Linked DNA regions of Homo sapiens: regions 2 and 3 are each linked to region 1. The links come from fine-mapping of genetic effects on gene expression. A gene starts in region 1. Each other region holds a variant in brackets. All regions are shown on one strand. Distances are between the middles of the regions.

Evidence for each region.
Region 2: its variant is fine-mapped to the expression of ACCSL in cerebellum (GTEx, PIP above 0.99).
Region 3: its variant is fine-mapped to the expression of ACCSL in whole blood (INTERVAL, PIP 0.91).

What each region holds. Positions count from the first base shown.
Region 1 is chr11:44,042,785-44,051,078 of GRCh38, reverse strand. ACCSL (1-aminocyclopropane-1-carboxylate synthase homolog (inactive) like) reads right to left here and starts at 3,098. Exons shown (of 14, transcript NM_001031854.2): 1 at 2,539-3,098; 2 at 958-1,017; 3 at 457-527. The coding sequence starts at 3,042.
Region 2 is chr11:43,914,942-43,923,235 of GRCh38, reverse strand. ALKBH3 (alkB homolog 3, alpha-ketoglutarate dependent dioxygenase) reads right to left here. Exons shown (of 10, transcript NM_139178.4): 9 at 4,100-4,198; 10 at 2,962-3,318. The coding sequence ends at 3,226. It overlaps ALKBH3-AS1 (ALKBH3 antisense RNA 1), which reads left to right and starts at 2,292. Exons shown (of 6, transcript NR_038907.1): 1 at 2,292-2,362; 2 at 2,772-2,850; 3 at 3,574-3,650; 4 at 6,315-6,567. It also overlaps a transcript of ACCSL not described here. RefSeq lists an enhancer at 1,811-3,010. The variant A/G (reference allele first, on the strand shown) is at 3,335.
Region 3 is chr11:43,869,893-43,878,186 of GRCh38, reverse strand. It overlaps LOC105376644 (a long non-coding RNA gene), which reads left to right. Exons shown (of 3, transcript XR_001748200.2): 2 at 111-204; 3 at 3,258-3,783. Among named protein-coding and RNA genes, the nearest start is that of ALKBH3, 6.8 kb to the left of the region's middle. The variant A/G (reference allele first, on the strand shown) is at 3,080.

The DNA.
Region 1 (8,294 bases):
ACAAGGTCAGGAGATCAAGACCAAGCTGGCAAACATGGTGAAACCCCGTCTCTACTAAAAATACAAAAAATTAGCTGGGCGTGGTGGCGGGCACCTGTAGTCCCAGCTACTCGGGAGGCTGAGGCAGGAGAATGGCCTGAACCCAGGGGGCAGAGCCTGCAGTGAGCTGAGATAGCACCACTGCACTCCAGTCTGGGTGACAGAGTGAGACTCCATCTCAAAAAAAAAAAAAAAAAAAGAACTCAGGCCTTTTGAATTATTCCTACTATACCAGAATAACTATTCCTACTATACCAGGCTGCCTCCTGATGAAGTTTTGCTCTAGGCATTTTCTAGAAGTTATTACCCAAAGAGATAGGGAGGTAACCAACCAGGAATTTGGTGCCTTGAATCCTCCTTCTGGATAAGGACAGCTGCCTGTGGGACCAAGAGACTCTAAATCTGAAGGTCACTTACAATGGCTGCCCTCTCCAATCAGGGTACTGAAGCAAGGTGTCCTCAATGCAGTTCATGTCACTTTCTTGCAACTGTTGACAAATAGAACATGAAGACAGGTAGGCCAGGGAAGTTCAAGAGGCCTCATTCTACTCCTAGTTTGTACATGAGTGTTTGCCCTCCACATACATGACCTCCTAGAAAGGGAATGGGTATATACACTGCATGCTCCTTAATGAATGGAGGCTACCATCTTGTCATAAATTACACAAGTAGATACCTCACTGGGAAGTATTTGACCCAGAGGTTCCCATAGCAACTTTCCCACCATATACCTAATCAGAGAATATCTCTGGACAGTCAGCAAAGCCAGGAGGTTAAATGTGCTATTCTAGAAGCTATTTCTTCACTCCTCTTCCCAGGCTCCTATGTCTCACCCCTGTATCTACCATAGCTCAGGAGCACGCTAGGGGGACTAAGCCTTGAAGGGGTGGGTCCCAACACAGCCCAGAACATCCTTACTCTTTCAGTCATCAGATCCATGCAGAGCTTGTTCTCACTGGTGCCAAGGTTAATGAAACCCTGGAGATGGAAGGAATCCAAGATCAGGTCAGTCCTCTTGCTCCACCCTACATAGATCCCTTGAAACATTAGTTCAAATGGAGATCTCACTGCCTATGAGGCAATTCAATCCAAATTTGACAACTTTACACGTTAGGAAAGCTTTCCATGAACCCAAAATAGTACAGCTTGCAAATTTCCCCATTAGAGCCACATAAATAAGTTATGTCCTATCGACCAGTCATTGAGTTCTTATTATGTACCAGATACTAGACCAAGTGCTTCTTGTGAGTTGTCTTAATTCCTGAAAAGAAGGTTCTATATAATCCAGTTTAAAGAGTGAAGTTTAGAAAAGTTGAATAGCCTACTAGCCATGTGACCTTGGGTGAAAAGTAGAACTCTACCTACCTGACGCCTGAGCCTGGACCCTTAATCCCCAAGGCCCCATCTGGCACCTACCTCTGCTACTTCTCCTTACACATTAGGGCCTTCTAAGTTATTAGAGGAGAACAGAGATAGGAACAGAAGGGGAAGGTATAGCTAATGTCACCCTCCACCCTCTGGCTGGAGAGCTGCTAAGGACCCCCTTTCCTGGAAGCCTTTCATCAGTTCCCCATCGCCCTTAGGGTAACATTCCTTTTTTTTTTTTTTTTTTTTTTTTTTGAGACAGGGTCCCACTCTGTCACCCAGGCTGGAGTGCAGTGGCGCGATCTCAGCTCACTGCAACCTCCAGCTGCCGGGGTCAAGTGATCCTCCCACCTTAGCTTCCCAGATAGTTGGGACTATAGGTGTGTGCCACCACGCCTGGCTAGTTTTTGTATTTTTTGTAGAGATGAGGTTTCACCATGTTGCCCTGGCTGGTCTCGAATTCCTGGACTTGAGCGATCCACCAACCTTGGCCTCCCAAAGTGCTGGGATTACAGGCATGAGCCACCACGCCCAGCCTCTTAGGGTAACATCTTAACACCTCCCATCCACCTCTGTTCACACCTCCTGCCACAGCACCAGTGGTCCCTACTCTGGCCATTGGACCTCCTTTCCCAATCACTCCTAGCCCTTCGCATCTTGAAGGTTTCACGTGTGCTGTTCCTCCTGCCTGGAGGGTCATGGCCATGGCCATCACCACATGGCTGGCTGATTCAGCCTTTAAGACCTCTTCCCAGACCACCTGAAGTGGGCATCCCTTTCACGTTCTTGGGAAGATTATTAATGCCTGTGCCCCAGTGGCTGACTCCATTCATCACTACGCTAAGTTCTTTAACGGCAGGCTCATTTGTCCCTGTGACCACAGGGGCCAACTCCTAATAATTAAGAGCTGGGATTAGGGAGAGGGAGGGATGTGGGGGTGGATGGAGTTCTCTAACTTTCTGGGGCATGTCACTTTATTTCTGTAATTATTCCCTTATCTGCAAGATGACAAGAGTGCCCGTTTCATAAGGCTATAAAGAATGAGAGCATATATAGCACTTGGCCCAGGACTCAGTAAATCCAAGTGACTGGAGCCCGTGAGGATGCTGCCCACCCCCCACCCCAAATTCTCACCAAGGTGTTCTTGTCCTTATGATATTTATCTTTTTGGTAGGCATTGTAGTCCTGGAAGCTCGACTGATAAAAGACAGAGATGTCAATCCCACGGATGGATAGGTCGCGGTTGACAAAGGCAGCTTCACAATCACTCAGTTGGGGAACTGGATCAGGCTGCCCAGAGAGTTGGGCCCTCTGCCCATATCTGACATCACCCCTAGAGTCCTCAGAAGGAAGAGGCACTTGGAGCTCCAGGCCACTCGCGGCCCCAGACTGTAGGAGGTTGATCATCCGGCATATTAAGCGACTCAGAAGGGCTTCATGCTCACAGATGGCCTCAGTGTGCCTCCTTTCCTCCAGCGACAGGCCCTGTCTGCTCGTCAGCTGCACGAAGTGCTCCGTCATGGCCTGCTGCAAGTGCAGCGTTATCTCCAACAGCTGGGTATAGATGCTGTGGTCTCTGGGGACCCGGCCTCTCCTCTGACCAGAGGGCACAGGAAGGGTGTCTGACCGATGACTCATACTCCGGGTATCTTTACTGGCCTCTGAAGGCTGCCTGGCACCTATGGAGAAAGAGACCATTGACAATGGAGCAAAGGAGGATCTCCTGGACCCTCAGGTCCAGGAATGGATGGAGACAGAACAGATCTCAGATCTGTTCTTCTCACTTCCATGCCTTGGTTATATGACCAGATTGGTTCATGAAGAGTTACCTACTCTTTAGGGCAATGAGTACATGGCCTCAAGCCTAGACACTGAGTGCTCTATTTAAATGGCATTAGGATGTGTTCTGAGGAAGAGCAGGGGGATATGAACAAGGAGGCTCTGGATTTTCCACCCCGTTCTTCAACCTGAGCACTTCCTGCTTTGTTTGGTTAAATAGGAAAAAAGGGTTTCTACTGCTCAAAAACAATCACCATCACTACCCACTGAGTAAAACATTCTGCTAGAATAAACTAATGCCTGAGGGCCAAATCTGGCCTGCCACTTATTTTTGTAGATAGTTTTATTGGAACACAGCCCCATTCATTTATTTATGTCTTGATTATGGCTGCTTTTGTGTTACAATGGCAGAGTTTAATAGTCATGACAGAGACCACGTGACAGAGACCATGTGGTCCACGAAGCCTAAAATATTAACTGTCTGGCCCTTTACATAAAAGGTTTGCCAAGCCCTGTTGAAGAACATCAGCCCTTCTTTTTGCCTTTTCTTCTCCAGGTTGGCCATACCAGATACTCAAAGCCTTTAGATTCCTCAGTTCCTCTATCCTCACTTGGCTTCCTGCAAATGCCTTCCACCTACTCACTGTGACAGCTGCCTTAGGCTTCCATCACTTGTAACTATGGGCTAGGTACATGGCTCTCAAACTTTGAAGTCCATCAGAATCACCTGGAGGGCGTGGTAGGAAACAGATGGTGAGACCTCACCCCTGAATTTTGAGTCAGTATGTCTGGGGTGAGACCTGAGAATCCTCATTTCTAGCAAGTTCCTGGGACTATACTTAGCAATTTTGTTTTGTTTTGTTTTTGTTTTTTTTTGGAGGGACTGGGTCTTGCTCTATCACTCAGACTGAATTGCAGTGGCATGATTATGGCTTACTGCAACAAACTTCCAACGATTAGGATTAACCTTCCTTTTGAAAACAAGTTAAATACTGAACGAGACCAAAAAATACCTTTTAAAGCCTCAAAGAATCAATAAATCAGATAGCAAGATCCCAGAAGGTAGGAAAGCTTGAGGCCAACAGCTGCCACTACTTCTTTAAGACAATCCTTATATCCCAAGATATCAAGACCCTTTTTTCTAAAAATCTAGACCTATGCCCATTCCACCAAATGCTACAATTCCAAGTTTTTCCCCCTAAGTAACATCCCCCTACACACACACAAACACAAAAAAAAACCTCGTTGCTTCTTTTATAAATTTAGGGCACCAGTACTTCAGAGTACCAAACACTCTGTCCAACTTCTTCAAACCATGTTCAGTTTGCCTGTGATGTTCCCATTGCAACCTATACCTCACCTTAGTGACATTTAATATTGTTACTTGTTCAGTGTCTGCCCAGGTCAGCCTTCAGTATTACATTCTTAGCACAGTACCTTGGCACATGGGCAACTAACATAGTTAATGAGTAGGAGAGGCATAACCACAAGGATGTTGCCAAGTCAGGGAAGAGATGAGCCATAAATGAAGACTTTGGCCATGGAAGATGGAGCAATAGACAGAGAAAGCCACAGAACAAAGCTGTATCAAGTCTTGACTTACGATCCCAACCTTTAATCATAATGCAAAAACTTTATTCAGTGTTAGGAACATACTGATGAGAAAGAAATTGAACAAATATAAGTGTTTATGCCTAGAGAAACCGTCTCTTCCACAAGCAAGAACTTTGCCCTGGCCCAAATTCCCTGTCCTAGAAGAGATTCATTTTAATGGGGCTCTCAACTCTGTAGGTAAGTCACACTATCTTTCCAAATACTTGATTATCATAGAGCATTGCAAGGGCCAGGTGAGATTCCTTTGGTTTTGCCTTCCAAAAGGTGGTGCCTATCATCCCTGTTGGTCCTGCGGAGTGCTAGTGGAAAGAGCCAAGATCGGGGTGGTAACCTCCCTCCAATGAACAAGAAGCTATTGTCACCAGGCATCTTCTTCCTTTTCCCAGGACTGGAATTACACATTGAGTATCTTTGCCCTGTGTCACCTTAACAACAAAGTCAAAGATGGGACAGCTCTTTGGACAGCTCTGTAACATCAGCCAGCTCAGCCCATGGTCCCAGAATTTTAGTTATTCCAGTTCAGTTAAATTAGGGGCTCTTAGACTTCTTGCCATGGAAGTCCTTGCTGTTACCAAAGTCCCACTAGTCTGCCCCATATACCAAGCACTCAGCCGGGGACTCCAGGCACATAGGAAATAGGGACCAGGATGCGGCAGGGAAGCTGGAGGCCAGTGTGGCCTAGTAGGCAAATGGAGGAGGAAACTTGTTTAAAGTAGTTTGAATGAGAACCCCCCAGGGCAGATTTATATAGCAAACATGGGGGCCAAGGCAGGTAACTGAAAGTAATGCGTTTTCCTGGTAAAAATGTTTTGGTTTTTTTGTGGGGGGGGTTGTTTGTTTTTGAGACAGAATCTCACTCTCTCGCCCAGGCTGGAGTGCACTGGTGCAATCATGGCTCACTGCAACCTCTGCCTCCTGGGCTCCAGCGTTCCTTCCACCTCAGCCTCCTGAGTAGCTGGGACTACAGGCACATTCCACCACACCCAGCCAATTTTTGTGTATCTTTTGTAGAGATGGGGTTTCATCATGTTGCCCAGGTTGGTCTCAAATTCCTGGGCTCAAGTGATCCTCTCGCCTCAGCCTCCCTAAGTGCTAGGATTGTAGGCAGGAGCCACCATGCATGGTCCCAAAAATGTGTTCTCTGATAACAAAGTGAGTATGCAGCAAGGCCAGGAGTAAACCTAGAAGCTGGACTTCTGCCAAGACTCATCTTTCTATGGGAAAAGTCTATTGTAAATGACACCATTCCACAAAGGCAACAATGCCCCTATTCCTCAGCCCTAAGTTGTCTGGTACCGGGGGTATACCAATCCTCTCCTCAAGTCTCCTTGGCTATACCATTGGTTTCAGTATTCGTCAGCCTCCCACCATCTACCTTTCCATTCACCCGGGGGCCTTCTCTAGCAGCTAGAACCAGTATCCCAGGATCAGCCCAGTAGATGCTAGCAGCCTTTTGACAAGAGCTGAAAGACAGATCATGAACAGAAGTTGGGAAGGAGAAATGAATGTGGGAAATGAAGTGGGAACAGGCTGGCAGTTCACTTTTGATGCCAGCACATGGCTATACTGTTTACAGAAGGATACTTCTAATATCACTTTTTCTAGTGCCCTACAAGCCCTTATAACTCTTCCAGCCTTCCTTCTTCTTGCCACACACCAGCCTCCTCTGGTGTCTCAGTACTCTCACCTAATTCAGATTCTTCCTTCTGGGTATGGCAAGTATGATAGGGATTGCAGAATCGTCTTCATGTGCATGTAAGGGGAAGCAAGTTATTTGGGGATATAGATCCCTAAATACAAGGTGCAAAATTGAAAGCTCAAGTAGAAGTACCCTTGACAGGCCTAGGCTCTATTCTATAATTGCTGCTCACTAACTGTAGGATGTTGGAAGAATTACTTCCCCTGTCTGGGCATCAGTTTCTCCGTATGTAAGATGAGAAGAATGTGATGAAACTGAAGCCCAGTGAAGATAAGTACCTTCTAGGGTCTCACATTAGAGCCAGGATTTAAACCCCAAGCCTCCCATTTTAGCCCTAGGAAGCAGAGTGAACTAGTAGAAAACCAGTCCTTGCATGAACTCCAGCCTGGCTTCATGTCACATAATACCCAGAAAGTCTCAAGTTCTGAGATTGGGTTAAATCATACCGTATTTTGGTGACTCAAAATTCCAGGTAGAAGTAAGCAAACACTCTGGAAGCTGCTACCATAGAGTATATTTCTCAAAGCATTTTTAAAATATTGTGTCCAGCATATAGAAAATCAGGTACATAAATAAACAGCATGACCTAAAACCACCAGCACAGACAAGAGAAAGACCAACTGGTCTCCAGCTATTGGGAGTAGATTATAAAATAATTGCTTTTCTGTTGAAGGAGATAAAATCCAAGTTTAAAAATGGAAAGAAAATTAAAATTTATTAAAATAACAGATTTGAAGGAAAACAGGAGATCCCCAGAGGTTACAATATAAAGACCAAAAATTTAAAACCTCTAAAGATAAAATTACTAACCTGGAAGAAGAGGCTGAAGAAGCTTTCTGGAATAAGGCATGAAGACAAGAGAAAGTAAGAGAATATGAAAAAATCTAATACACACACAGATGTATTTTTTTGGAGTCCCAAAAGAAGAGAAAATGGGACAAAAATCATTTGAATAAGCTGTATCTTCAGTGCTAGATAGTTAGACATCAAAGCATGGATTCAAGAAGTCCAAATGCTAACTGGGATAAGGAAATCTACACTATATAGTGAAACTACAAAAAACAAGACAAAGATAACATCTCAAAAGCAATCCAGGAAAAAAATGTACCTTTCAAGGAATAACAGATCAAAAGCTAACTTCATCAACAGTGGAAACCTGAAGACAGTGGGATGTCATTTTCAATGTACTGAAAGAAAATAACTCCACTTAGAATCTTGTGACCATCACAGGATCAGTATTTCCACAGGCAATACCAATTCCTCAGACTAGTGGTTGCCAGGGGAGGCGTGTAGGAAACTGACTGCACTGGGGCCCAAGGAACTTTTCTAGGGAAATGGAGGTGATCTCTATTTGATGGAGTGGTAGGTAGATGGTGATAGCCATTTGTCCAAGCTCAAACGGTATACTTATGAATCTTATCAGACTTAAATAGATTTAAAATGTAGCTATAGCGAACTAAGTCTCTGCTAGAATATAAATAGCTAAATACGTTTATTTTTGAGACAGGGTCTCACTCTGTCACCGAGACTGGAGTGCAATGGTGCAATCAGAGCTCAATGCAGCTTCAACTTCCCAGGCTCAAGCAATCCTCCCACCTCAGCATCCCGAGTAACTGGTATCACAGGCACACACCACCATGCCCAGCTAATTTTGTTGTATTTTTTGTAGAGACCAGGTCTCACCTTGTTGCCCAGGCCAGTTTCAATCTCCTGGGCTCAAGTGATTTGCCCACCTCAGCCTCCCAAAGTGCTGGGATTACAGGTGTGAGCCACTGCACCCAGTCAACAACTTTATTTT
Region 2 (8,294 bases), 130 kb after region 1:
TTGTCAAGACTTTCTCTGAAACCCTCCAACTGGAGCATTCAGCGCACTGCAGGGCCTACTTAACTCTTTCAGCATTGCAATGACACAATTCAGGAGACGGCTCTATAGTGACTGTGTCCAGACAGACCTGCCACGCACTAGGGCAGGATCACATCAGCCACAGAGGCAGAGAGTGGGTGCCACAAGGAAAGGGCAGGTTTATTAGCTGTGACTCAAACTTATCAGGAATTGTCAATGCCACCCGAGCTAGTGGGTTAATGATGGATCAATGTGGATCCTGATTTCAACACTGGGGATGCAATCTGGTGCTAAGTGTGTGTTCCAACCCATGTTTGAAGCAAGTTGCCTGTTATAAAGAAGACATTTTTAGTGTGGAGCCTGATGTTTCTTTGGGCTGCTGACTGGAGTAATGGTGTTGGTAAGTATTGTGAAAAAGCCTGCTATGAGTTTGGGTGTCATTCAGGGTCCCCAAGTGTATTCACAGGTAAGAATGAGGTGAGAAAGGACCACCGGGGAAAACTTATCTGTCTCTAAAAGTTTCATATCTCTGAAGGTGGATATGGTCAGGAAACACTTGCCAGAAAATCAAGGAAAGTTGGCTGAGAATTTGTCTAACTCACCAGAAGTTGGATTCTGTCCCCTCAAAAGGAGCTTCCCCAATGAAATGGGCAACTGCTAGTCCAGTCACCAGCAGTTTCTGGCTAGAGGATGCTGATGCTGATTAAGGAAAGATGAGATGCAGATGCCTGCCCTGATGAACAGGAAAGTCAGGGAACAAACAGGTGGCCTGTGGTCAGCTGTGACCAGCTCCACAGGAGCCAGCCCTGAGGCTCAGGCTCCCGGGAGTGCTCAGCAGACCATTTCGCCTACATTCAGCATGGCAAAGGGAAACCAAACAGGCCGAGAAACTAGCCTGCAGTCTGCAATCTGGTTCTGCCACTACAAGCCCTGTTAACTTACCTAACGTCTTGGAGATCAGTTTCCTAGCCTCTACAATGGGAATAGGACCTCTCTCTTGCAGCGCTGTGGGAAGGATAAGGGATTATGTATAAAAGCTCCTAGGACAGTGCCTGCTGAAGCTCAGAAGAAGGGCAGCAAAAACAAAACCGAAACCTGTTTTTCTTCATGCTACCGCTGTTATATTTGCTTCCTCAGCTTTACACGCGATGTAAGCAAAAACAGCTTCACCTCTAATTCCTAGTTCAGATCTAGCACCAGCAAAACAAAGCAACAGGCTGCTGCAGTCACTGAGGCACACTGCCCTTTGCCATGGTCTGGAATTCCTGTCCATGCCTACACCCTGTAGTTTTACTCTATGGCAAGTACCTACTTGCCATTTCAGAAGGGACATTATCTTAATGGTAAAGAAAAGGGCAGTTCTGGCATGTGGTATCTGGAGTGACAGCAAGAAAAACAAAACTGAAGATTTGCTGCTCTCAGACCAAGAAACCCAGGTGGTGGCCCACTCCATCTGCTGTAGAGTAGAAATGTTTCCCTGGAAGACATGGGTGTGACAAGTGAAGAGATCAAATGCACAGCTGCCACACGGGGAGATCATGACCCTCCATTAAGAAAGAGGGACGCTGGAAGACTTGGAACCATCTGCCAGTTCTTTCATTAGTAAGGAATGGAAGATAAATTTCCTAGTGTCATGCATCAAACTGATCACCAAAGCTGGCTGTATCACCTGGCCAGGTATTATTTGCATTAATAGGAGAACAGCTAAGCATTGAAAAGAGGCTTTATTTTATTCCTATGGTGATTTGAACCTCCCTCACAGGAAAGCTTGGTGTGGTGCTCAAATTTTAGAAAGTATTTCATATTTCTTAGAGAAACAAGCCGTGCTCATTTTTTGTTTGTTTGTTTTTTGTTTTTTAAAAGGGCAGGGGGACTACAATGCCAGGAGCCAGAGAGCTTGTCAGAGAACAGCCTGGCCAGGCATGGTGCTCCATCTGAGTGCCGAGTCAGAGCATGCCCAGCCTTTGGCATTTTCCTATGATCATGGACAGCATCAATCTTACAGCCTGGAATGGAAACAGGATAAAAAGCAAGAAGGCACTGTACCTTTCCCCCACTGGCAGACAGAGAAACTCTAACTCTCCCGCCCTATTTTCATCCATTTAAATTCATTTCCTTTCTCTCAGGTTTTCTGTATCTTGGTTTGGAATGAATCTGGTACACGGCTCCTGAGTCAAGAGGTCAAGAAGACACGTGGTTTTATGATGCAACAATGGGCAGCCACTCTGTTTTGTTTTGGGAACCTCAGTGACATCACAGACTAACCCTTGTACCTTGGGACCTTGTATGTAAGAAAACATTGAGTCAGAAGAGAGCGTTAGTCATAGGGCTACTGAAACACAAGGTGACGAGAACTATTAGGCAATTGAGTGCATTCCCTGCAGGGCTGCTCCCACTTCTATCTGACTTGGGTCTAGATGACTCAAGTGATTCCCGAGGGGAAAATAATCTATGTGGAACAGCTGTCATGAGCAGGCCTTCTGCTGCTCTTCAGCCTCAATTTCAGCCTGCTACTTCCCGTGACATCATTCAGTGATTCCTCCCTTTAAGGGGACAGTTTTCTCTTGTATTACAGGTGACTACTTGAAGGTGGCTAGACGAGAGCATACTGCCACCACTCTTTATTTGGAGGCCTGTAACCTGTCTTGAGTGTGTTGCAGGAAGACTCAGTTACAGTGTTCCCTGAATATGTAGCTTTCCATTACAATAGTATGCAAGCCAAGATGAAACCACCTCTGTTTGGGTTTCAGCAGCTGTCTGCCTACGGAAGGCTCCAGAGTCCCTGACGCATATTTATATCTCCACTTCACTGAAGTCACAAGGAACAAACACGTGAGATTTTCTTTTCCCCAGAGGCACAAGTCCATTGATATTTCTTCAAATGAAGGCGGGGCGTGTGGGGGGCGGGGGAGGGCAGGAGGAAAACTGCTTAGAACAAAATCATCCATGAGCACTGCCACATAGATTTTAATTTGCCTAAAGATGATAGCGATTTTGAGCTGTGGTTAGGGATAACTGTTCCCACAGTAGACCTATTACCAACATGAGTTGCTGGCTTTCATTTAATAGGACTCCAAGCTGGCAAACAAACCCCACCATCTTCCCAACAGCCACATCATGAGATCTAGCAGCACCAGCCTCTTGAAGTGGCTTCTCAGTGGAAGGTTTGCTCCGTTTCAGTGAAGCTTCTCTCTCAAAGCTCTGACGTCACCAGGGTGCCCCTCGAGGGTCTGGATAGACTGTCCGAAAGGTCAGGTTCACTCTCGGTTCTCTAGAGTGGTATTCTTTGGGCACTCGATGCTAAATGGAAATACAC[A/G]TAACTCTGACATAAATACACACATACACACTTTTAGTTCAAAGCGACTTAAAACTTATTCATGAGAATGCAGAAATATTTCCATCTCATCCCCCTTAAATGAGTAGTAAGCTCTTTGAAGTCTTGTGGAGAAAGGTCCCTTCTTTGAAACAAATTTCCATCCCCAGCCCCACTGTGCTATGCCAGCACCTCTGAAGTGAGATATTTTCATCTTTTCTAATTGTTGCTGTTCCTCTCAGACACCTGCCATTTCCCAAATCTCATAAAACATATAAATGGATGAGACCAAAGAGAGGCATGAGATTCCATTCTTATGGTAAGTGTTTTGACATTAACATGTGCACCTTAGAAATGATCTGGCCTAAAAATGGCATGGCCTAGCTGCAGAGCTGTGTATTCCAATAAGATAGTCACTAGCTACCCTGAAGCTATTTAAATTTAAGTTAATTAAAATTAAATTAAAAACTCAGTTCTTTATAGCATGCAAGCCACATTTTAAGAAGTCAGTCATATGTGGCTAGTGACTACTACAATAGGCAGCACAGATACTGAACACTTTCATCATCACAGAAAGTTCTACCGGACACACTAGTGTCCACCTGGATTGTCAGTAGTAGCAAAACTCCTTGGAAAGAATGTCAGCTCATTCCCTCTTGCTCGTTGTAAAAGCAGCTTGCTTTTCACCATGTCTACTTAGAAATAGTCCTCAGAGTCAGGAAACTGCCTCCACATGAAAGCAGATTCATATTACTTGCAGATCCTCACCTGCCAGTCAGCTTGTGTCGCTCCTTCCATGATTAACAAGGTCCCATGATCCAAGGGTATCTTCACTCTTTCCACATATGTGTAGTCTCCATTCTCTTCCTAGAAAACAGCATTTGTTGTAATAAATGTTTTGCCTGTGTAATCAAGATGCAACAGAACCTGACAGAGGTCAAAAAAAAATGGAAACCTCTGCTCAGCCAGACTGTGGGAATCCATATATAGCTCTGTCATTTGGCAGCTGCTTGACTGTTGGCAAGTTACCTCATCTCTCTGTACCCTGACTTACTCATTTGTAAAATGGGGAGGATGACAGTGACTGCCACCTAGGGCTATGGTGAGCCTCCATTGATAGAATATGTGTAAATCCCTTGAAGATTGGCATGCAGTAAGTGCTAGCTATTAGTGTCATCATCATAATCCAAAATGCAGAAAAGCCCATTCTGGCCTAAGAAGGAAATAAAAGTCACCTGTACAAGAATTCTTTACATCTGACTGATGTTGTGCTCTACATTTTGACATACTCAGTGTGGGAAAAATGTCCTTTTAACCAAGATTTGATGCGATGACTTCCTTCACCTTTTCACAATGTATGCTAATTTACTAATTGGCACCTATAGTCTCAATTCTTCTCATGGCTACTATGGAGTTTTGGAGACATATTCCTGCCTCTTTCCAGAACAGACAACAGCAAGATTTTCTCAAAGGGAGCTCTGGCTTGACCAAAACAGTGCTGTCAAACTGAGATTGGCTGTTTACATCTTTGAGGATGGATCACGACTCCTGTACACTTAGGATACAAATGCTTTGTATTTACACAGAGAGCTCAAAAGCAATTTATGTCCAATATTCTCAGGAGTCTTCAGAGCATAAGCTGCAAAGCAATTAACTGGTAGTGTGGCTCCTCCACAGCTGAAAACCAGGAGCATTAAACAACTTCTGTGCTCACAGCAACAAAGAGCATGTCAAGTGCTGAGACTGGGACAGATCTGAGCTTCCTGATTTCTTCACCTCCATTCTGGGCAGAACTGATGGGTCTATTCATTCATCTGCTTCACTTCCGGTAGAAAGGGTTACATTTGGGTTACTGCAGGATTGATTTCAGTGCAAACTGTGTTTATGTTTATTACTGTATGGGTGCTTCTGAGAACTTAACTGTTTACAAAGATTTTCCCTAGGAAAATCAAAATCAAAACAATCATGAACTTGCATAAACAGTCTAAGTTCCAGGCCCCAACTTTTGGCAGTAACTTTGTCAAGCATAGTCATAATTTTTATAGACAGAAGATAGAAGCAATGTTTAAAATAACTTTGGTTTCAGTGATTGATTTTAATTGTGTCTGCCACCTTTTCTCTTCCAGTAATAAGTGGGCACCAAAACATTTACCTTTGACCCCTCAGACAACCAGAGGGCAGTGGGAAGGTGACCCTGCCCTCACTGCAGCCCAGCTCCATCTCAGAAAAGCAAAACGCTGCTCTGATTTAAAAAAAAAATCCAGACAGAGGAGACACATGGTCCTACTGGGGAAAAGATATCCGGAGGGAGTGCACTGACCATGAGATTAGACAGTCCAAGGCTCCTTAATTTAGGCTGTATAGTCAGCTATCAGATCAAGGTTCAACACAGCTAGAAGCAGAAGAATTTCTGCTACCCTCTACATAATCAGAGAGTGCAACATGGGCTTAATCTACAAATCAAGTACAGACACTAAGGAGAATAAAATAAAGTAGAAAGGAAAGACACTTAACCACAACATGAAGGCAATTCTGAGATGAAGATCTCCTAGAACATTAAAAACACTGTTGGGGAGAAGGAGGTGCTAGATCAGTGGAAGAGAATAGGTAAACACTATAGTTCCACCTGGAAACATGAAGCAGGAATCCACCTCACAAGTGAAAGAGAATTCCGAAATGTATCAGCACTGATGGAAAGTGATGTTCAATGATCACATTTCACATACTGTTCCTAAGATCTGAACTTTTCAAATGAGAGAAAGTCTCAGGTTGGTTTTGAACACATTACATTCAACATAACCATTAGCCATACCAAAAAGCAGACAAGGGTGAGCCTTCGTTTGGGAGGGAGCCACTCGAATCAGTCCACAAAGGAGACACCCTTACACAGTGTACCCTCTGTGAGAAGTGATATCATTCTTTGCTGCTTGTTATTTATTCCTTCTAAGATCTTTGACTTAGAAGATGCATTCCTAATTTGCAGAAGGAGACAGACAGGAAAGAGGGCAAGGGATCCTACTAATGCAACACAGAGCTCACAAATGCATCCTTCCCTCGAGGCCAGAGTGGCAACAGACCATAGAGCCACCCTTCAACTGAAGCAAGATGCCCTTCAACTGAAGCAAGATGCATGGAGACTGTTTCCACTTAGGAGTCAGATAAAAGGCCAGAGGAACCCACATGGCTGTGCATAAAGGCTCCAGTTGATAAATGGATAAGCAACAGTGGAAACACAGGTCAGACTGTTTAGAAGAGTGCCTTCCTAGTCATTAAGCGTGGTTAAGTTACCCAAACACATCTCTGTAGCCCTTTTGATTTACTCAGGGTTTTCTTCAAAACAAAACAAAACACACCCCCCAAAACCAGGGCTAAGGATAAAATTTTCCATCACTCATCCTGGTTAAAAGCAGCTTTTAGGGTCACACTCAAGCTACAGGGTGGGTTTTGTTATTGATGTTCTTGGTTTTCCAAATACTTGAAACCCTACGAGTACATGGAAAAAGCGAAAAACATGTATTTTTATATTAATGCTGATCAACATTCTCATTCCTCCAACCGCAGCCAGTTCATTTGAAGGCTTAATTATGCTTTTCTAAAGCTTCTCACAACTCTTACCTCCACCTCACCAACATATCCTATTCAGTTTCCTTTAAGAAAATGCTATTTGGGGTGAAAAAATCTGGATGTATTTACTGTTATGTCATTATTAACCATCCAACAGATGGGAAACCTAAACATTTTTCTTTCCATTGGAAAGGTAATTCATACTGTATGAGATTTGGAGTTTTCTTAAAATCATCCCTTTCTTGTCCTAAAAGAATGTCTTAGAAATTACAAACAATCATCAATGCTTTAAAATCATCATACAGGTTTTCCTTCTAGAATATAAAAAGTAACATAAGTTTACTAAAGTAAATGATGCACTTGTAATTATTTATTCAACCTCTGCTCTTATAAACTCCATGAGGGAAAGTTTATGTGGTCTTCCTGTTAAGAAACATTCTCAGTGCCTATCACACATATGAATAAATATGTACTGAATGACTGAGGAAGAGTACACAGAAAATGTAGAAAATCGCCTGTAATCCTATCATCCAGAGTTTATACAACATACACACAGAGTCTTCCAGATATACAATCGTGTGTACTCCATTTTTAATATTTTATTGAGCATTTTTCTATATCTTTAAATATACATTTCAAAAATATGGTTATAGAATATTCCTTTGTATGAACATATCCTTCCTTTAAACTCACAAATACCTTTTGACCACCTGTATATATCAGGCATTATGCTAGTACTAAGGATGGAGCAGTAAGGAGCACATGGTTGGAGATTGATTTTCATACACCAGTATTTTTTTTTAAAAAGAGGGAAAATAAATAAAAAGCTGCTGCAAGCAGATTTTTGGGCAAAACATTTCTGCATATATTTCTAGGATATATTCTTAAAAAATGGAATTACTGGAGCCAAGTGTATGAACTTTAAGGCACTTGATTTATATTACCAAACTGCTTTCTTGAGAAGGCTGCAGCAATCTATAATCTCACCAGGAAAACATGACAGTACCTATCTTCTGGCTGAACATTATCAACTGACAGTAACGAAAAACAATTAGGGGAGAAATGACAACTCATTCAAACTTAGAGATCTTGGATTACAAGCCAAGTTCTTTTTTTTTTTTTTTTCTTTTTTTGAGACAGAGTCTCACTCTGTCACCCAGGCTGGAGTGCAGTGGTGTGATCTCGGCTCACTGCAACCTCCACCTCCTGGGTTCAAGCGATTCTTGTGCCTCAGCCTCCCGAGTAGCTGGGATTACAGGTGCCTGCCACCATGCCTGGCTAATTTTTTTTTATTTTTAGTAGAGATAGGGTTTCACCATGTTGGCCAGGCTGGTCTTGAACTCCTGGGCTCAAGTGATCCACCTGCCTTGGCCTCCCAAAGTGCTGGGATTACAGGTGT
Region 3 (8,294 bases), 170 kb after region 1:
ATCCTACAACAAGATCCAGAAGATGCTCCTTTTTCTAAAGCATTGAGAAATACTTTAGACAAGGGAGCACTTGCATCCTTGGAAAGCTCTGTGGTTGCTCTCCTTTGCAGGCCAGGTGTGATCATGGAAGATGCCACCATTGAGTTGGGTCCCCTGGTTTTACTGGAGATGATGAGGCCAAGTGGCAGCACTTAATTATTAAAGGTAAGGACATTGATCCAATACAGAAGCCAGGACATACCAGTAATCAGAATATGTTGGTCTATAAGGATCTTTGGTAGTGGCCATGGTGTCCCTAGGAATGAAACAGATGGGCAGCCTACTAGAGAATTGTTTGATCTATCTAACAGAAAAAAAGTCTATGTCTAGTAGCCAAAAACCTTACCTGGCCACACTGGATAGACATATCTCTCACCTAGTTTCCAGACAAGTCATATCACGACCCCAAACCTCTTGATTGACAGGGAAGCCACATCTCTTGGAGGAAGGACCCTGCACCATTGTCACAAGTATATACTGTAAATTTTCCTCCAAGTCTTTTTTTTGAGACAGAGTCTCGCTCTATCACCCAAGCTGAGAGCAGTGGCGTGGTCTCGGCTCACTACCAGCTCCGCCTCCTGGATTCATGCCATTCTCCTGCCTCAGCCTCCCGAGTAGCTGCCTGCCACCACGCTCGGCTAATTTTTTGTATTTTTAGTAGAGATGGGATTTCACCATGTTAGCCAGGATGGTCTCGATCTGACCTTGTGATCCACCCACCTCGGCCTCCCAAAGTGCTGAGATTACAGGCATGAGCCACCGCGCCCGGCCCAAGTCTTCATCCAAGTGAATGCAGCCATTTACTCAAATGGTTACACACTGGGGAAAAGTAAGTACCCAGGTATTTTAGGGTTTACTGGGCAATGGCTCTTAACTAATTCCTGGGAACCTAGAACACCTCTATGGCCCACGAATGAAAGTGAGGGCTTAATGATGTTCAAGTGATAGATGGAATCTTAGTTCAAGTTTGACTCACAATGGACCCAGTCATCCACAGATCCATCCAGTGGCTACTTCCCCAGTTCCTGAATGTATATGGATGCTCCCTTGACTTATGATGGGGTTCTATCCTGATAAACCCATTGTAAGTTGAAAATATCATAGGTCAAAATGCATTTGCTACACCCAACTTATGGAACATCACAGTTTAGCTTAGCCTGCCCTAAACATACTCAGAACACTCACATTAGCCTAAGCTGGGCAAAATAATCTAATGCAAAGCCTGTTTTATAATAAAGTGTTGATATATCATGTAATTTATTGAATACTGTACTGAAGTACAGTTTCTACTAAATGTGTACCACTCTTCCACTATCGTCAAGTCAAAAAATCAATGGAACCATCATAAGTCAGGGACCATCTATAGTTGGATTAGTTATATTTGGCAACTAGCAGAATCCCCAAATTGACTCTCTGACCCACAAAGTGAAGGCCAGTTGGTAGAAAAGGCTACCTGGAAACTCCAGGAACTTCCCCTCCATACCAAGATAGTAAATACTAGCAATACCACATTCCTGGAGGAATTGTAAAGATTAATGCCACAATCAAAGACTTGAAAGAATCAGATGATAATTCTATCACATTCTCATTCTCATTTAATTTACTGTTGGCCTGTGCAGAAGTCAAACGGATCTTGAAGAGTGATTGTCGGCTGTTGTAAATTTAATCAGGTAGTTACTCCATGACTCCAATGCAGCTGCTGTCCCACATGTGCTATCTTTACTGCGGCAATTAACATAACCTTTTGCCTTTGGTAGGCAGCTCTTGACCTGGCTAATGCCTTTTTCTCTATATTAATTTACAAGAAACTTTCTGCCTTGGCTGGGTGCGGTGGCTCAGGCCTGTAATCCCAGCACTTTGGGAGGCCAAGGCAGGCACATCGCCTGAGGTCAGGAGTTCAAGACCAGCCTGGCTAACACGGTGAAACCCCATCTCTACTAAAAATACAAAAAATTAGCCAGGCGTGGTGGTGGATGCCTGTAGTCCCAGCTACTTGGGAGGCTGAGGCAGGAGAATGGCGTGAACCCGGGAGGCAGAGCTTGCAGTGAGCCAAGATTGTGCCACTGCACTCCAGCCTGGGTGACAGAGCGAGATTCCATCTCAAAAAAAAAAAAATACAAAAAATTAGCCAGGTGTGGTGGTGCACACCTGTAGTCCCAGCTACTCGGGAGGCTGAGGCAGGAGAATTGCTTGAACTAGGGAGGCAGAGGTTGCAGTGAGCCGAGATCATGCCACTGCATTCCAGCCTGGGCGACAGAGTGAGACCCTGTCTCAAAAAAAAAAAAAGGAACATTCTGCATTTACTTGGCATGGCCAACAGTATACTCTCATAGTCTTGCCTCAGAGATACCTCAGTTCTTCTGCTGTCATACTATAGGTCCACCTCTCATCCTGACATCCTACAAAACATCACTCTAGACAACAATAATGACGACATTGTGCTGATTGGATATGGTGAACAGAAGGTAGAAAGTGTTTTAGATGCTTTAGTAAGACATGTGTGAGCTAGGTGTGGTGGCTCATACCTGTAATGTCATGCATGGGCCAATAGGCCCATGAACAGAGTAGTCATGGTGGCAGGGATGGAGGATATGCATGGGCTCAACAATTTGGACTTCCTTTTCTCAAAGCTGACCTGGCTAATGCTACTGCTGCATACCTAACCTACAAATAGCCAAGACCAATACTGAGCCCTCCATATGTCACCATTTGTCAGGCGACCGTCCAGCCACTTGTAGCAGTTTGATTACATTGGACCTTTTCCATCATAGAGAGGGTGGAGATTCATCTTCACTGGAATATATTCATATTCTGGATATGGGTTTATTTATCTTCCTTGTATGTACTGCTTTGGCCAGCACCACCATCTGTGAACCCACCAAATGTCTTATTCCCCTTCATGGTATTCCCTGATCAAGGAACTCATTTCACAGTAAAGGAAGTACATCAATGGGCTTAACTTCTTACCCATTGGAAACAGTTTGGCTAATTGAAAGATGGAGTGGCTTACTGAAGACTTAGTTATGGCCCCAATCAGGAG[A/G]CAGCCCCTGAAAGGGTAGAGTTCTGTATTATTGGATGCAGTTTATACTTTGAATCAGAGATCAGAATATGGTGCTCTTTCTCCCTTAACCAGAATACATGACGCTGGGAATGAGGGTGAAAATGAGAGTGACCCCCTTCAGTAATATAATTATTAACCCACTTGCTTCCTGTCCCAGCAACACTGAGCAGTGCTGGTTTGAAGGTCTGCTTCCTCAGGGTGTGAATGCTTACACAAGGACTATGTCTGGAACCAAAAGGATTTTCTCAGGTGCCTCTTGGTACTTTGTGTCCAGTAAAAAAAAAACATAAAGAAAACTACAAAAGCAGCAACAACAAAACAGCAGAATGATGAATAACTTGGATTAAGAATGAAGATTTGTGTTGTACCGTCAGGTAAAGAAGTCAGTGAACTGAGGTTCTGGCTAAGGGCAAGGGAAATATGGAAGAAGCCACCTGTGATGTTATAACCAATAACAGAAACAAAGACTGTATGAGCTTTGTATGTTTTCTCTTTGCTAGCTATATGTATGTGTTTTGTACATGAAAATCATGTTCTTCTCTCTCCATTATTTTATATTTATGTAGTTGGAGGTTACATTTACAATTTAGTTTCTATGTAGCAGAACATTCAGTAGGATTATGATTGAATTTGAAGACTATTTAATACGGTCAGTAGTAGATATGGTGACTGTTGGAAGTTCATTTGGGGGGAAACAATGAGAACGCCTTCACTTCTGTGAAGGATAGCTGTATCTTGGTAGGTGGAAACAGATGTTGTGTTGATCCTACAGAAGTTGAAATGTGTGTAGAAGGGTGGTGCATATGGAAACTGAGTAGCTGAAGGAGTGGACTCTGAATCATCAATCCTTATTAACTCTCAGCTCCAAATCCATCCTTTATTGCCTGCTTGTTATACTGGAACATTTTTCCCTTGCTAGCTGATTCAATAGTAAGCTTCATTAGTCGATAGTCCTGAAGAGACCCTGAAGGGGGAAGGGGCTCTTTAAAAAATTTTTTTAATTAGCCCTTATAAAAGAGGAAGAGGCTCTTTTTCTTCTATTCTCTCTCTCTCTCTCTCTTTCTGACAGAGTCTCGCTGTCACTCAGGCTGCAGTGCAGTGATGCAATTTCTGCTCACTGCAACCTCCACCTCTCGGATTCAAGTGATTCTTCTGCCTCAGCCTCCCGAGTAGCTGGGACTACAGGCGTGCACCACCACACCCGGCTAATTTTTGTATTTTTAGTAGAGACGGGGTTTCACCTTATTGGCCAGGCTGGTCTCAAACTCCTGACCAGAAGAGGCTCTTTTCCATGGTTCCTGTGTGTTCCTCTGTACTAGGTTGAATAATATCCACCCTCAAATTTATGTCCACTCAAAACCTGTGAACATGACCTTATTTGGAAGTAGGGTCTTTCCAGATGCAATCAAGTTAAGATGAGGGCAGAGTGAATTAGGGCAGGTCTGAATCCAATGACTGCTGTCCTTATAAGGAGAGGGAGATTTGGAGACAGAGGGACAGAGAAAGACAGGCAAGGACGCCATGTGAAGGTGGAAGCAGAGCTTGGAGGGATGTTGCCACAAGCCAAGGAGTGTCTGGAGCCACCAGAAGCTGGAAAAGGTGGGGAAGGATCCTCCCTCAGAGCCTGTAGAGTGCACATTCCTGCCAATACCTTGATTTGGGACTTCAGGTCTCCAGAACTGTGAGAGGATGGATTTTCGTTCCTTTAAGCCACCCCATTTGTGGTAATTTGTTATGGCAGGCCTAAGACATGAACACATCTTTTCAGCCAGCTCTGCCATGCACCATGGCCAGCAGAGCTTGGTGCCTCCCCTTGGCAACTTCCCAGTACCACAGTTAGTTCTCTTGGTGCAGCTCGCCAGCAAACTTCGCCATCCAGCAAAACACCACCATGTCTCCTCCAGCGAGGTTTGGATCCTTAACCCTGGCAGATGGGAGCTGTTTCAGAGTTGTTTCTTCCTCGCTGTTCTGCCTCAAACTAGAGGTAGAGGCTGCTCCCTGCATCTGTTACACCAGCGTGAAAGGAAAATAAAATCTCGGGACCCTAATTCACTCTGCCAAAAGGAAAAATTAAGCTCAAAGCTGAGTCATGCAAGAAGCTGCCTTTCCTTTTGTTCCCCAACAGAGAGCTACCGATCAAGGTTAAATATCTGCATGGGTAGCTCCTCTATGTTCACCCTATCTAATGTAAAATGCCAATTTACTGGGTGTGAGATGAATACATAATTGACTATTCCCCTACCTGCTCCTTTTCTCTAGTATCGTGGATCACCAGACCCTCTCTCTTTCCCCTCCAGCACACTTTTCCCCTTTAACTATTAAAGCCCTCAAAATCATCTTTGGAGAAAGGCACAGACCACAGACTTTCTGTTATTCCATGTTCTTTTCTTCCAGATGTGTTCTTAACCTTGGCAAAAATAAACCTCTAAATTGATGGAGACCTGTTTCGGATACTTTTTGGCTTACGCTTGTGTTCTTAGAGTTCTCTTTTTCCCTTTGTCAGTAACCCTCTATTATGGTTAATAATTCTTTCTTTCTTTTCTTCTTTTCTTTTCTGTTCTTCTTTTCTTTTCAACAGAGTCTCGCTCTTTTACCCAGGCTGGCAGGCTGGAGTGTGGTGGTGCAATCTCAGCTCACTGCAACCTCCATCACTTGGGTTCAAGTGATTCTCCTGCCTCAGCCCTCCGAGTAGCTGGGATTACAGATGTGCACCACCACGCCCAGCTAATTTTTTCTTTTATTTTTAGTAGAGACAGGATTTTGCTATGTTGGCCAGGCTGGTCTTGAATTCCTGACCTCAAGTGATCCACCCGCCTCGGCCTCTCATGGTGCTAGGATTATAGGCGTGAGCCACCGCGCCCGACCTATTTCTTTCCTGTCCAGATGATTATGTAGCTTCTGTCTCCTGATTGAGTCCTGATGGTTGCAGTGGGAATGTGGCATCAGGAGTTGAAAGCAAAGGCTAACTGCCTGGGCCCCGGGTTGGCCTCTGTACATCACTGATTTGCCTCTGAGTTGGGTCCTTGCTCTCCTAGCCCATCACTTACGTATTGCTTGCTCCTCCTAGTTTGTCCTCATCCAAGACTGCCTTCCTAAAGTAGATGTTGCTGGTTGCTTTGCTACTTTGAAGCCAGCATTTCTCAGCATGTGGTTGGAAGGGTAACTGCATGAGAATCACTAGGGGATGCTGTAAAAATGCACATTCTGGGAGCCCATCAGGATTCTCAGTTAGTAGGTCTGGGGCAGGGCCCAGCAATGTGCATTTTTTTTTTTTTTTTTGAAACATAGTCTCGCTTCGTCGCCCAGGCTGGAGTGCAGTGGCATGGTCTTGGCTCACTGCAACCTCCGCCTCCTGGGTTCAAGCAATTCTCCTGCCTCAGCCTCCTGGCTGCCACACCTGGCTAATTTTTTGTACTTTAGTAGAGACAGGGTTTCACTGTGTCTTGAACTCCTGACCTCAGGTGATCTGCCCGCCTCAGCCTCCCAAAATGTTAGGATTACAGGCGTGAGCCACCCGCACCTGGCAGTAATTTGCATTTTTAACAATGCTCTGTTCCATTTTGCAGGTACCTGCACCATATTCTGTATCCTTTCCCTATGTCTGTTTTCCAGAGGTGATCACTTCCCACTCAACAGTTATCTCATACCCTGGATGGCAAAGCTGATAGATGCTTTAAGTGCTGGTAGCTCTTAACAGTGATTCTGAGTGAGCTACACCCTGTAGCCTATTTTCAGTTGCCGATTTTCACACCACTCTCTTGCCAAGCGTTCCCTGTTTCAATCATGTGCAGCTTGTGGAGTGCCTGCTGCTGTATTCCTGAGAAAATCCAACCCAAGGAAAATAATGGCACATCATGCTAATAGCTCTCAGTGAAGGTGTTGCATAGAGAAATTCCCAGCCTATGTCTCACTGCCAAAGGTTTAGCAGCTCCCAGCTTGAGCAAGGAGGGTGGGAAGGGAATCTGCCAACCCTGCAGCATGTTTGCTATGAGGCTTTCAGCTCTCTGCCAACTTTCAACAACATTGAAGGGTAGAGGACATTTCCCCAGACTCCAGACAGGAACACCTTCTGTTCAATGCCCAGCACGATTGTAGATGCTGCAGGAGGTAAAATCTCCATCCAGTGAACCACAGGGTAAACTGTGTGAGATACAATTAAAAAACAGTGTAATTGGATGTGAAATTATGGAGGGCAGACAAAAATTTGGGGAACAAGAGATCACTAGAGGTTATAGTCATTAGCAAAGTCACTATGGAGTATAGGGAATTATGTCAAGGTTTTAAATTATGTAGCATTCAGACAGCTTGAAGATATTCTGATAGTTACATTATCCCTAAAAGGAGTAGGCAACATTTACACATTCTTATTTCTAAATAATAGCAAATAATAACATTAGTTAACATTTCATGAGCACTTCTTACATGCCAAGTGCTGTTCCAATCACTTACATGCCTACACTGATCTAATTTTTTTTTTTTTTTTTTTTTTTTTTTTTTTTTTTTTGAGACGGAGTCTCGCTCTGTCGCCCAGGCCGGACTGCGGACTGCAGTGGCGCAATCTCGGCTCACTGCAAGCTCCGCTTCCCGGGTTCACGCCATTCTCCTGCCTCAGCCTCCCGAGTAGCTGGGACTACAGGCGCCCGCCACCGCGCCCGGCTAATTTTTTGTATTTTTAGTAGAGACGGGGTTTCACCTTGTTAGCCAGGATGGTCTCGATCTCCTGACCTCATGATCCACTCGCCTCGGCCTCCCAAAGTGCTGGGATTACAGGCGTGAGCCACCGCGCCCGGCCCACTGATCTAATTTTAAGAACCCAGTTACACAGGCATTATTATTATTAGACCCATTTTACAAAGAAGACTGAACCACAATGCCACATGATGCCACCGTGCCACCTCTCTGCAAATACATGCCAGAATGAAAGCCAAATTAGGAAAGATAGGACTGTTCCTAAAATGACATGAACCATTTCTTGGGACCTCATTGCTGGTGTCTTTCAGTGACTTCAAAAAAGAAGAGTTGGTAGCAGTGTAATCCAGCAGCCCCTGAGTTATTAAGCATTCTTGATGGTTTTATCTAGATGGCTTAGCAGATTCCTCTGTAGAGCTACTGAGTCCTCAGAACCATGGGAATGGCATCATTTTGAGTCTATGAACTATGATGTCAAACGAGACTTGGTTCAGATCTCAGCTTC